Homo sapiens: one gene and its partners. The protein of the gene in region 1 interacts with the protein of each later gene in a pairwise test. Each region holds a gene or a part of one and is shown on either strand. Other genes may lie near its edges.

What was found.
Region 2: the proteins of STMN4 (region 1) and SEC22A interact in binary tests that used the Homo sapiens proteins (3 or more experiments, as listed by UniProt).
Region 3: the proteins of STMN4 (region 1) and STX8 interact in binary tests that used the Homo sapiens proteins (3 or more experiments, as listed by UniProt).

The regions. Positions count from the first base shown.
Region 1 is NC_000008.11:27,234,726-27,238,179, forward strand, and holds the end of STMN4 (stathmin-4), read right to left. Parts: intron 2,181-3,454; coding exon 2,121-2,180; 3' UTR 583-2,120; downstream 1-582. UniProt on the Homo sapiens protein: Exhibits microtubule-destabilizing activity.
Region 2 is NC_000003.12:123,222,443-123,226,097, reverse strand, and holds part of SEC22A (vesicle-trafficking protein SEC22a), read right to left. Parts: intron 2,540-3,655; coding exon 2,376-2,539; intron 996-2,375; coding exon 801-995; intron 1-800. UniProt on the Homo sapiens protein: May be involved in vesicle transport between the ER and the Golgi complex.
Region 3 is NC_000017.11:9,502,790-9,506,444, forward strand, and holds part of STX8 (syntaxin-8), read right to left. Parts: intron 2,374-3,655; coding exon 2,249-2,373; intron 1-2,248. UniProt on the Homo sapiens protein: Vesicle trafficking protein that functions in the early secretory pathway, possibly by mediating retrograde transport from cis-Golgi membranes to the ER.

The DNA of each region.
Region 1 (3,454 bases):
CAACACATATATACACAAAATATAAAATTGAAACACAATTTCCATGAAATAATGCCTCCATTATCACCTGTCACCCATTTTGATGTTTTGTTTTTCTATTCTAATCCACTTAAAAAAGAAAAGAAAGGTTGGGTGGGATCCACTACGTTGATCTCAAGATCCAGTGAGTCACCACTCACAGCTTGAGAAACCCTATTCTGGGACTCAGATGCTAGTTTGGAGGTGTCAAGAAGCAGCACACTCCAGTGGCTAAGAATATGGACTCTGGGAGCAAACCGCCCAATTCAAGTCCCTGTTCTCCCATTTACTCCCTGTGTGACCTTGCCAAGTTACTTACCCTTTCTAGACCTCAATTCTTTTGTCTACAAAATGGGATGATAAGAGTACCTACCTCCTACAGGTGGTGTGAAGATAAGTGAGATAATATAGATGTAAAAGTACAGAAAAGTGTAGGACATCTAGTAAGTGCTGCCTAAGTTAGCTGCTGCCATCATCATCATCATCATCATCATCATCATCATCATCATCTTTGATCCTCCTGTTATCTTATTTTAAAATAAAGCCAAATTACAGTACCACTAGTGAGAAGAAAGAAAAAAAGGCTATACCAAAGGGTTTATTTGCAAAGCTGTAAAAAACTACACAGTGTGCAGAGCAGAGTGGGAAGAGGTCCTGGGACCCGGTTAACACAGGCAGCCCCTGCACTCATGTTTGCAGGGGAAGGGAGGAGGAGAGCTTCTTTTCCAGCCATGGTTCAGTGTCCTGGAGACCAAGACTGCTGGGTCTGGATGCCTCCTTTGCCTTCTACTAGCAAACACTTTATTTCCTTGCTCGTATTTTCTAATCTACCTAGAATCTCAAACCCCCAAAGCATGGAGGACTTCTGCTATGGTGTGAATGTTGCTGTCTCCCCCAATATACAGGTTGAATCCTAATCCCGACACTACAGAATTAAGAGATAGGGCCTTAAGAGGTGAGATCATGAGGACTCCACCTTCATGAATGGGATTAGTGCCTTAAAGAAAAGGCTCAAGGAAGCCCTTTTGCCCTTCCCTTCTGCCATGTGAGGATGCAGCAAAAAGGCATCATCTTTGAAGCAGATGGCAAGCCCTCACCAGACACTGAATCTGCTGGCACCTTGATATTGGACTTCCCAGCCTCCAAAACTGTGAGCAATCAATTTCTGTTATCAATTACTTAGTCTAAGGTATTTTGTTACAGCAGTCTGAACGGTTGTGACTAAGACAAATTCCTTCTTACAGTGCATCTTGGGGACCATATTAGGATGTCAGTTCATTGAAAGGAAGATTGAGTTTCTTTTCTCATCAATTTAGTGCATGCTATCCAATAAAGATTAGCCCACAGAGGGGATTTTAAAAAACAGAAGAGAAAACCTTTCAATTATGCCAAAGGCTGGCCTGATTCAACCCACCTCACCCAGGCTCCAGATGCTTGAATGGCAGAATTAAGGAAGCAAAGGGGCATCTGCCATCAGATGGATGAAAGCCAGGTTTCGAGAACTTTTTAACAATTACCCAAAGGACACATTTGGGAAATAAAGAACTGGACACTTGGAGTCAATGTTTCATTGGTCATGATGATCAAAAAATGATGGTTCACACACACACACAGACCTCATCCCACCTGCTGCAGGGTGGAAGCAACACCACTGGTACTCACAACCCCTCTGGCTGGGTTCTCTGGTGCGCCCTGCAGCCGCTGCCCCACCCAGGACTCTGTCCTTCACCCTGAAGTTCTACCGCCCTGGTTTTCATCTCTCCTCAACATGGTGCCTGGAGGCTCAATGTCCAGGTAGAGATGTGAAAATCAGATCTGCGCCGGGCAGGGTTGCAATGTCCTTGAGTTCTTCTCCATCTCCCTTTCCCAAACTCTCTCCTCTCCCCTCTCCCACCCCGTCATTGTTCCCCGGAAACAAATAGGATGGCTTCACTGGTCAATTCTTAACATGTACAAACACCAAAAGCAGAGGAAACGCCCCTTGGCCACCCCCCTCCCCCCAAACCCCAGTGCTGGGAGCGCAGCCGGCGGGCGAGGCTGCCTGGAACGTGGAGCTGCTGGAGCTGTCCGGCTGACCTGGAAAGTTCTTTGGCCTCTAGGCTTTACCTGGAGGCCTCTTCCTTCAGCTCCTTGTTTTTCCGCACCTCCTCGGCGTGCTTGTCCTGGAAAGGAAGGGAGGGAAAAGGGCAGGTCACACAAGGCTGCCCGGGGACAAAAAGGGAGGCCAAGGGGCAAGAGAACCAAAAGCAAAGAGTGGCCACCACAGGCAGCGAAGAGCTCTGTCTGCAAAGGCATCCCGAGAGGGGCAGAAGGTGGCAGGTGAGGCTGGCAGGAGGCAGGGGGCAAGCCTACTGGTGCTGCCCCAGGGAGCTCAGGGTCCTGTGGGTGTCAAACTGCAGCAGGGGCCCACCTTACAGTGACCATGGGCCACGCAGCCTCCCCCTCCCTCACCTGGCCATTCTGTGGTTTGGATTAGATCATATGGCTTGACTTAATATAAGGAGCTGCTGGGGGTAATTTGTGCCAGAGGAGCAGGCAGAACAGACAGGCCTCACTACAAGCATCCCCTACAAATCACATGCACCTGCCTGCTGCTTCTAGTTCTCATCCATCTCCTTTGTGAGAATTGCCTTAACCCTCTTGGTGAAAGATGAGGATTCTTTGATTTTCCTTTGTTATTATTTAAACAAAAATAGAGATGGGATCTTGCTATGTTGCCCAGGCTGTCCTCTAACTCCTGGCCTCAAATGACCCTCCCACCTCTGTCTCCCAACGTGCTGGGATTACAGATGTGAGCCACCGTGCCCAGGTGTGGACTCTTAAAGTGCAAATCGACAGAAGAATTTTGAAAATGTTGCCCAACTCCAAAAAGTGGACTTTCTTACACCTATTATAAGAGAACCTTCTTTTATTTCACAGGGTAGTGCAGCCAAAAGATAGCATCTGCCTTCCAAGGCCCATCTGCAGGAGGATCTTGGCTGGCTCACTTCTCCAACCAGGCCTCAGTTCTCTGATCTTTAAAGAGAAGGGCATAGACAGGTGGTCTTTCACCCCTCAAGTTGTGATGTTTAGTGTTCACCTGCTCACTGTGCAGATTCTCTATTAGACAGTTCTCTATTAGACGGTGACTTTCCTGTGGGTAGGGACCACATTATCTTTTCTACTATGGTGCCTTACACATGGCAAGCACTCAACCAATGTTGTCCCTCCCAGAGCCTGGCACTGTCACATCCAGATGACAGAATCAGCCTGAAGTAGACCCACGGAGGCCCCCAGGTTTTCAGGATAAACTATAAACTACGAATCTGTCCCTGCAGACACCCTAGAACTTTCTGTGGCCTAGGAGTGAGGAGTGGTGTGCACAGGGCAGGGGTTCCCAAACTTTGGTATGTATCAGCATGACCTAGGAAGCACCATCCCTAGACAGCCAGGATTA
Region 2 (3,655 bases), on another chromosome or scaffold:
AGACAAACGGATTAACAAAATGTGGCACACATACACAACAGAGTATTATTCAGCCATAAAAAAAGAATGAGATCCTATCATTTGCAACAGCACGGATGAACTGGAGGACATTTTATTAACTGAAATAAACTAGACACAGAAAAGAAAAGTTTACATATTCTCACTCATTTGTGGGAGCTAAAGTTTAAAACAACTGAACTCATGGAGATAAGAGAGTAGAATTTTGGTTACTGGAGGATGGGAAGGGTAGTGGGGGTGGGAGAAAGGGTGATGGTTAATGGGTACATAATATAGTTAGCTAAAATGAATAAGATTTAGTACTTGATACCACAATAGGGTGACTACAGTCAACAATAATTTATTGTACATTTAAAAATTAACAGAGCACAACTGACATGTTTATAACACAAAGAAATAATAAATGCTTGAGGTGATGAATACCCCATTTACCCTAATGTGATTATTACACATTGCATACCTGTATCAAAATATCTCATGTACCCCATAAATATATTACACACCGAATATGTACCCATGAAAATTAACTTTTTTTAATTTTAAATTTAAAAAAATGTTTTTCTAGCAAAGAGATCCTCTGAGGTTGCTATTTGAAAGTATTTTCCCGATTAGTCACACATCTGGTAGCTTACTTTATAAATCACTGAAAGGATTGCTTTGAACTTCTATATTCTCTCATGTACTTGATTTAAAATATTAGAATAAAGTAATTCATTTTCAAGAGTTTCTCAGTTTTTCCCAAGGATTTTTTTAAAATAAAATAACTGAGATCCAGAACTCACCAGAAGAAATCTTACCAGCACCTTTACAGTCAACAGAAAATGCTGATGTGACTCCATTGGCTGACCCCAGTTCGCACATGGAAATTTGATAAGGAGGCCTCAGCTTGATTTCCGTCTGCATGTCAGAAAGATTTATCTTTGTTGAAAGAGACCTGGGATTATTATATCGCTGCTTGGTCCTCTGAATGAAGTTATCTATGTAAAATAAAAAATAAATTTCCTTGCAGTCACTTGTCAATTAATCATTTCAGAATATGATGTTTATGGATAGTAAATATTACAGGTAGTTTATTATTCAAAATTGTTCAATTCGTCATGAAATAGTCCAATATTACTTGTGTTTAATGATTAATGTATCATGGAATCATCAGTTTTACCCTCTAGAAATCAGTAATTTTAAATAAACTAAGGATTTAACACTACCTAAGTGTATTACATCCACTTCAAGAAATTACAAAAACAAAAAACAGCTTTAACTTTAAACCAAAGTCTTGAATTTTTTTTTTTGAGACAGGGTCTTGCTCTGTCACCTAGACTGGGGTGCAGTGGTACAATCATAGCTCACTGTAACCTCAAACTCCTGTGCTCAAGTGATCCTTCTGCCTCAGTCTCCCAAGCAGCTGGGGCTACTGGTGTGAGCCACCATGCCCAGTTTATTTATTTATTTTTGTACAGACAGGGTCTATGTTGCCCAGGGTGGTCTCGAACTCCTGGCCTTAAGTGATCCTACTGCCTCGGCCTCCCAAAGTGCTGGGATAAAAGGCATGAGCCACACCACACCTGGCCCAAAGTCTTGATTTTTATAGAGATTCCTATCTCATGAAATATTAAATCTGTCAGATTTACCAGCTGCAATTACATAAGAACACACACTAGAAGTTGCATGTTTTTATAAATCTGTTTTTTATTGCTTACACCATTAGAATGTAGGTTTTAAAGAATAAATTGAATAAAACTAACATAAGACATTTCCTAAATATTTTCCAAGTGGAATTTTATTTTTACTATTTACAACATGGTGTTTTTTTTTTTTCTTCTACATCAGAAGTTGAGCAAACTACTGCCCACAGGCCAAATCTAGCCTGCTGACTATTCTGTAAAGTTTTATTAGAATATAACTGCACTCATTTACGTACTGCCTATGGCTGCTTTCGAGCTACAACGGCAGGGCTGAATAGTTGTGACAGGGACTATATGATCCTTAAAGTCTAAAATATGTACTATCTGGTCCTTTCCAGCAAATGTTTGCCATCCCCTATTCTACATGAAGCAGACTATAAAAGATTATTACAGAAACGCAAAAGTCTGAATCTCTGGCTTATAAATTTCTCATTGAGAAGTTATCCTCTGGCATTAATTCTTCGGACCAATACTCACAATCCCCTTCACAGCTCAAACACAATTTTTTTCTAATAAGCATCTAAGTAAAAAGTTACCATAATTTATAGATCATTTACCAAATTATTATATCAAAAGCAAGATAGCAGAAGTCCCCCCTCCACCCAATATTAGATTTAAAATTGCTTATGATTGGATGCAGACAGAATAAAAAGGAAAAAAAAATCAGGCCCTTACCAAATTCAATGAAACAGTATGGTCTGACAGCAGTATTTGTCTTCATCATGTTATAAGTAGTAATGAACTCCTTCTGAAGCTCATCCAGGAAAGAGAAGGCGAGAACATTTGGGTAATTTTCAGTGCACAACATCATGTAGCTCACTCCCAGAGAGCTAATAAAACTACAGTGTAAAAAACATTGGTTTTAAAATTTCAAATTAAATCAAGGTAATTCACTGCTTCACAAGACTGGTTCTATACACCATAAACTGCTACTACGGTGGCAATGAAGATCTTAACATTTATTATATATTCTAGGAAAAAATTTAAAGGAACCAAAATACAGCACTATTTTAAGTTGTGGTTTAAAAACAGAAGACAAAAAATAGAATGTACTACAGAGGGACACACAATACGGTTCTAACATTTCAGTTATCACTTGGGGTAAAAAGCAGGGGAATGGATATACAAATGTATTGTAAGTATTACAGATAGCTTAAAGTCTAACCCTTCAATATGTTTTCCACTTTTGAGTCCAGAACCCTTTCAAGATTCTGATGACAGGAACACTCTCCCTAGAAAGATGCCAGAACACAGAAGATTGCACACAATTTCAAGGTGATCACTGACCTCTTGAAGTTATCATTGACACACCCCAGAATCAAATCCTCTACTTTACACAGTAATTAATTATGAACCATGGGAGGGGGGAATTTATGAGTTTATATAAAAAACAAAAGGAGAAATGAGGGCTATGGCTTAAAGCAGAATGCTGAGTGTTGACTGGTAAACGTAGAGGAAGTGCTAGCAATGGAAAAATCAGCATTTTGCAACCAACATAGTAAAGATTGGATCAGGCAAGGACAATCATGGATGTTAAATCTAGGGGGAAATTTTTACGGGTTAGTATATTTGCATGGTTTTAAAATGTCTTTCCATGGATTGTTTCTTAGTTGCAAGGGGAAAATATTATACAGTAGAAACTAGGTAACTCCTTCACCAAGTACTCTCTAACATCATTCATGTTAGATGGACATTGTGTGTCTCCAGATGTTATATCCTGAGAAAGACACATCAGCTATATAATATTCTGAGAATGCATAATTTGAATTTAATCATTAAGAAAACACCAAAATGATCAACATTCTATTTTTGAAAAGGAAAAAGTGTATTCTTTAAAAGTGCCAGGGTTGTAAAAAAGAAATAAAGGATGTGGAAATGTTGCCAATCAAAAGAAGCTAAAGAGGCCGGGCATGGTGGGGGCCTGTAATCCCAGCACTTTGGGAGGCCGAGGTGGG
Region 3 (3,655 bases), on another chromosome or scaffold:
ATACAAATCTATAATATAAGAGTGAAATGCAGGCCGGGCGCGGTGGCTCATGCCTGTAATCCCAGCACTTTGGGAGGCCGAGTCGAGTGGATCGCTTGAGGTCAGGAGTTCGAGACCAGCCTGGCCAGCATGGTGAAACCCCATCTCTACTAAAAATACAAAAAAAATTAGCTGGGCATGATGGCGGGCGCCCGTAATCCCAGCCACTCGGGAAGCTGAGGCAGGAGAATTGCTTGAACCCAGGAGGTGGAGGTTGTGGTGAGCTGAGATCGTACCACTGCACTCCAGTCTAGGCAGCAAAGCCAGACTCTGTCTCAAAAAAAAAAAAAAAAAAAAAAGAGTGAAATACTGATACACATAACCAGTTCAATGAATCTTAAAATAATTATGCTTAGACAAAGAAGCCAGAGCCCCTTCTTCCCCAAAAGGTACATACTGTATAGTTCTATTTATATAAAATTATAGAAAATGGAAACTAATTTATAGTGACAGAAAGAAGTTCAGCAGTTGTCTGGGCATGGCAGGGAGGAACAATAGGAAGAATTACAAAGAGGCATGAAGAAAACTTTTGGGAATAACAATTAGGTTCATTATTTTTATTGCAGTGATGGTTTCACAGGCATATACATATGTCAAAGCTTATCAAATCATATACTTCAAACATGGGCCATTTATGATCATATCAACTACATCTCAATAAAGCTGACTTTAGATTTATTTTCTCCTCCTCCTCCTCCCTCTTCCTTTTTATTCATTAATTTTTTTAAAGATGGGATTTTACTATGTTGCCTAGGCTGGTGTCAAACTCCTACACTCAAGCCATCCTGCTGCCTTGGCCTCCCAAAGTGTCAGGAGTACAGGCATGTGCCACCAGGCCTGGCAATAAAGCTGATTTTAAAAAGCAGAATTAGAAAGAATAATGTATCTGTACATACTGACATTTTAAAAAGTCCATAACACATACTAAGTGGTTTTTTCTTTTTTTTCCTTTGAGATGGAGTCTCACTCTGTTGCACAGGCTGGAGTGCAGTGACATGCTATATCGGCTCACTGCAACCTCTGCCTCCTGGGTTCAAGCGATTCTCCTGCCTCAGCCTCCTGAGTAGCTAGGACTACAGGTGCGTGCCACCACACCCAGCTAATTTTTTATTTTTAGTAGAGACGGCGTTTCACCATGTTGGCCAGGCTGGTCTCGAACTCCTGATCTCAGGTGATCCTCCTGCCTCAGCCTCCCAAAGTGCTGGGATTACAGGCGTGAGCCACCACACCCAGCCGACACATACTAAGTTTTAAAAAGGTGTGGAATTATATATATATATGGAGAGAGCTAAATATCTCATGATTCCATTTATGTAAAATAAGTATATTTATATTGAATATATGTATGTGAATGTATACAAAAGGTCTAAGGAAATACATATTAATCTGTTTCCAGTTTGAGATTGGAGAAACAATATGGAGGGCTTTCATCTTATACATTCCTATGTTGTTTACACTTTGTATAACAATCATGCATACTTCTGAAATTTTAAAAATATAAGAAAGTTTAAAAAAAAAAAGTTAAAAAGCCACAGGGCAAAAGATAAAAAAGAAAAGCCAAACTGACATATTTTATAATTTAAAAAATAAAATGGAGTCTTGTGTTTGGAGACTAATTCCCAGTCGTGAAGCTAAAGTAAAGAGCATAAGCATCAAATTTGCTTGGACTTAGATTCAGATCTGCTCTCTCTGCTCTTGCCCAATGGAAAATCACCACTTCCATGAGCCACCGAGATGAGTGACAGCAACTGTCTATTCCTCAGGTATCCTGAGGCACACACCAAAAGCTTTAAAAGACCAGCAGTTTTCACTCCAATTTTCAATGGGGATGAGGAACAAACAAGGCTCCAGTAGAAAATCTGGTGGCCGGGCACGGTGGCTCACACCTGTAATCCCAGCACTTTGGGAGGCCAAGGTGGGAAGATCATGAGGTCAGGAGATCAAGACCATCCTGGCTAACAGGGTGAAACCCTGTCTGTACTAAAAATACAAAAAATTAGCCGGGCATGGTGGCACGCACCTGTAGTCCCAGCTTCTCGGGAGGCTGAGGCAGGAGAATCGTTTGAACCCGGGAGGTGGAGGTTGCAGTGAGCCAAGATCACGCCACTGCACTCCAGCCTAGGCGACATAGCAAGACTCCGTCTCAAAAAAAAAAAAAAAAAAATTCTGGCAAGGTTTCTGAGCCCACACTCCTCAGGATATTTAGTACCTTGGATAATTTTCTGCTGCTGTTGCCGGATTTCATCAAAACCCAAGCCTCTGGTCTCCTCTGGCTCCTCAAAGAGCCAAGGGTTGGGTGCTCCTCGCTTAGCCTCTTCACTCATCAGGCTGGACCTAAAGAACAATATTAAATGCATGATATATCTCAAAACATGCAGCTCAAATGCAAATTACTCCCACAAGTGCAGAGGTGGCCAGCCTTGAATGCTTTGAAAATTCAATTCAAACACAATTTATTGCATCATTAGTTTATGCCAGGAACTGTATTCAGTGCTGGACGAGATACAAGGATGAATAAGGCACAAGCTTGGTCCTCAGAATTACAGCCTGTTATAGAGATGATGGGAGAACATAATATTTGTACTAATCCTCCAAGAGATGTTTGAGTTAATAATCCTAAAAGAAGTTGGTAATAAATGAGGTTCTTAAATTTCAAAAACAGAAGGCCGAACAGCGGCCTTTTTATTAGGACAAAGTTTGTCTCAGAGGCTACGTGACCCCAAAGGTACAAATATTATTTCTCAAGCAGACACAATGTTGCGACTACAGATTACAATGTTGTTGTTGTTTTAAAAAAAGACCATATAATTTCCCATTAAAGGGTATTTGGAGCCGGGCGCAGTGGCTCATGTGTGTAATCCCAGCCCTCTGGGAGGCTGAGGCGGGCAGATCACCTGAAGTCAGGAGTTCCAGACCAGCCCGTCCAACATGATGAAACCCTGTCTCTAATAAACACAAAAAAAATTAGCCGGGCTTGGCGGCAGACATCTGTAATCCCAGCTACTTGGGAGGCTGAGGCAGGAAAATCGCTTGAACCTGAGAGGCGGAGGTTGCAGTGAGCCAAGATGGCGCCACTGCACTGCAGCCTGGGTAGCGGAGCAAGACTCTGTCTCAAAAAAAAAAAAAAAAAAAGGAGTATTTGGTTGCTCAGAGACAGAAACACATGCAGGGTTTCAATACCAATTTTGTGACTATAATGTAGCATTCATAACAGAATAAACACATTCTGATTTGTCAATCTTAACCTTACTCCCTCTAATAATCCATGTGCCCTTTCTGCACGAGACCAGTTGGTCTCGCTGTCTAAGGAACAGGAAACACATGATTTCCACCTCAGTCCCCATGTTTTCAGGATTTTTCTCCTCTCAAGTAGCTCCTCTCCTCTCCCCACCTGTCTGCATTCTGTCCAAGCTGAGAAGATCATCTTGTCCAGGACACGACCTTCTGACCAATTCAACAAAGAGATGAACATTAGACTCATCTTTAGAGCTCTCAACAGATTCATGAAAAATCATAGAATAAATGATGGGTGGGACATCAGCAAGATGACTGATTAGAGTCAGCTGGTGCTCACCCGCTCCCCCCCCCCCCCACCCACCTTTCTTAGGAAAGGACT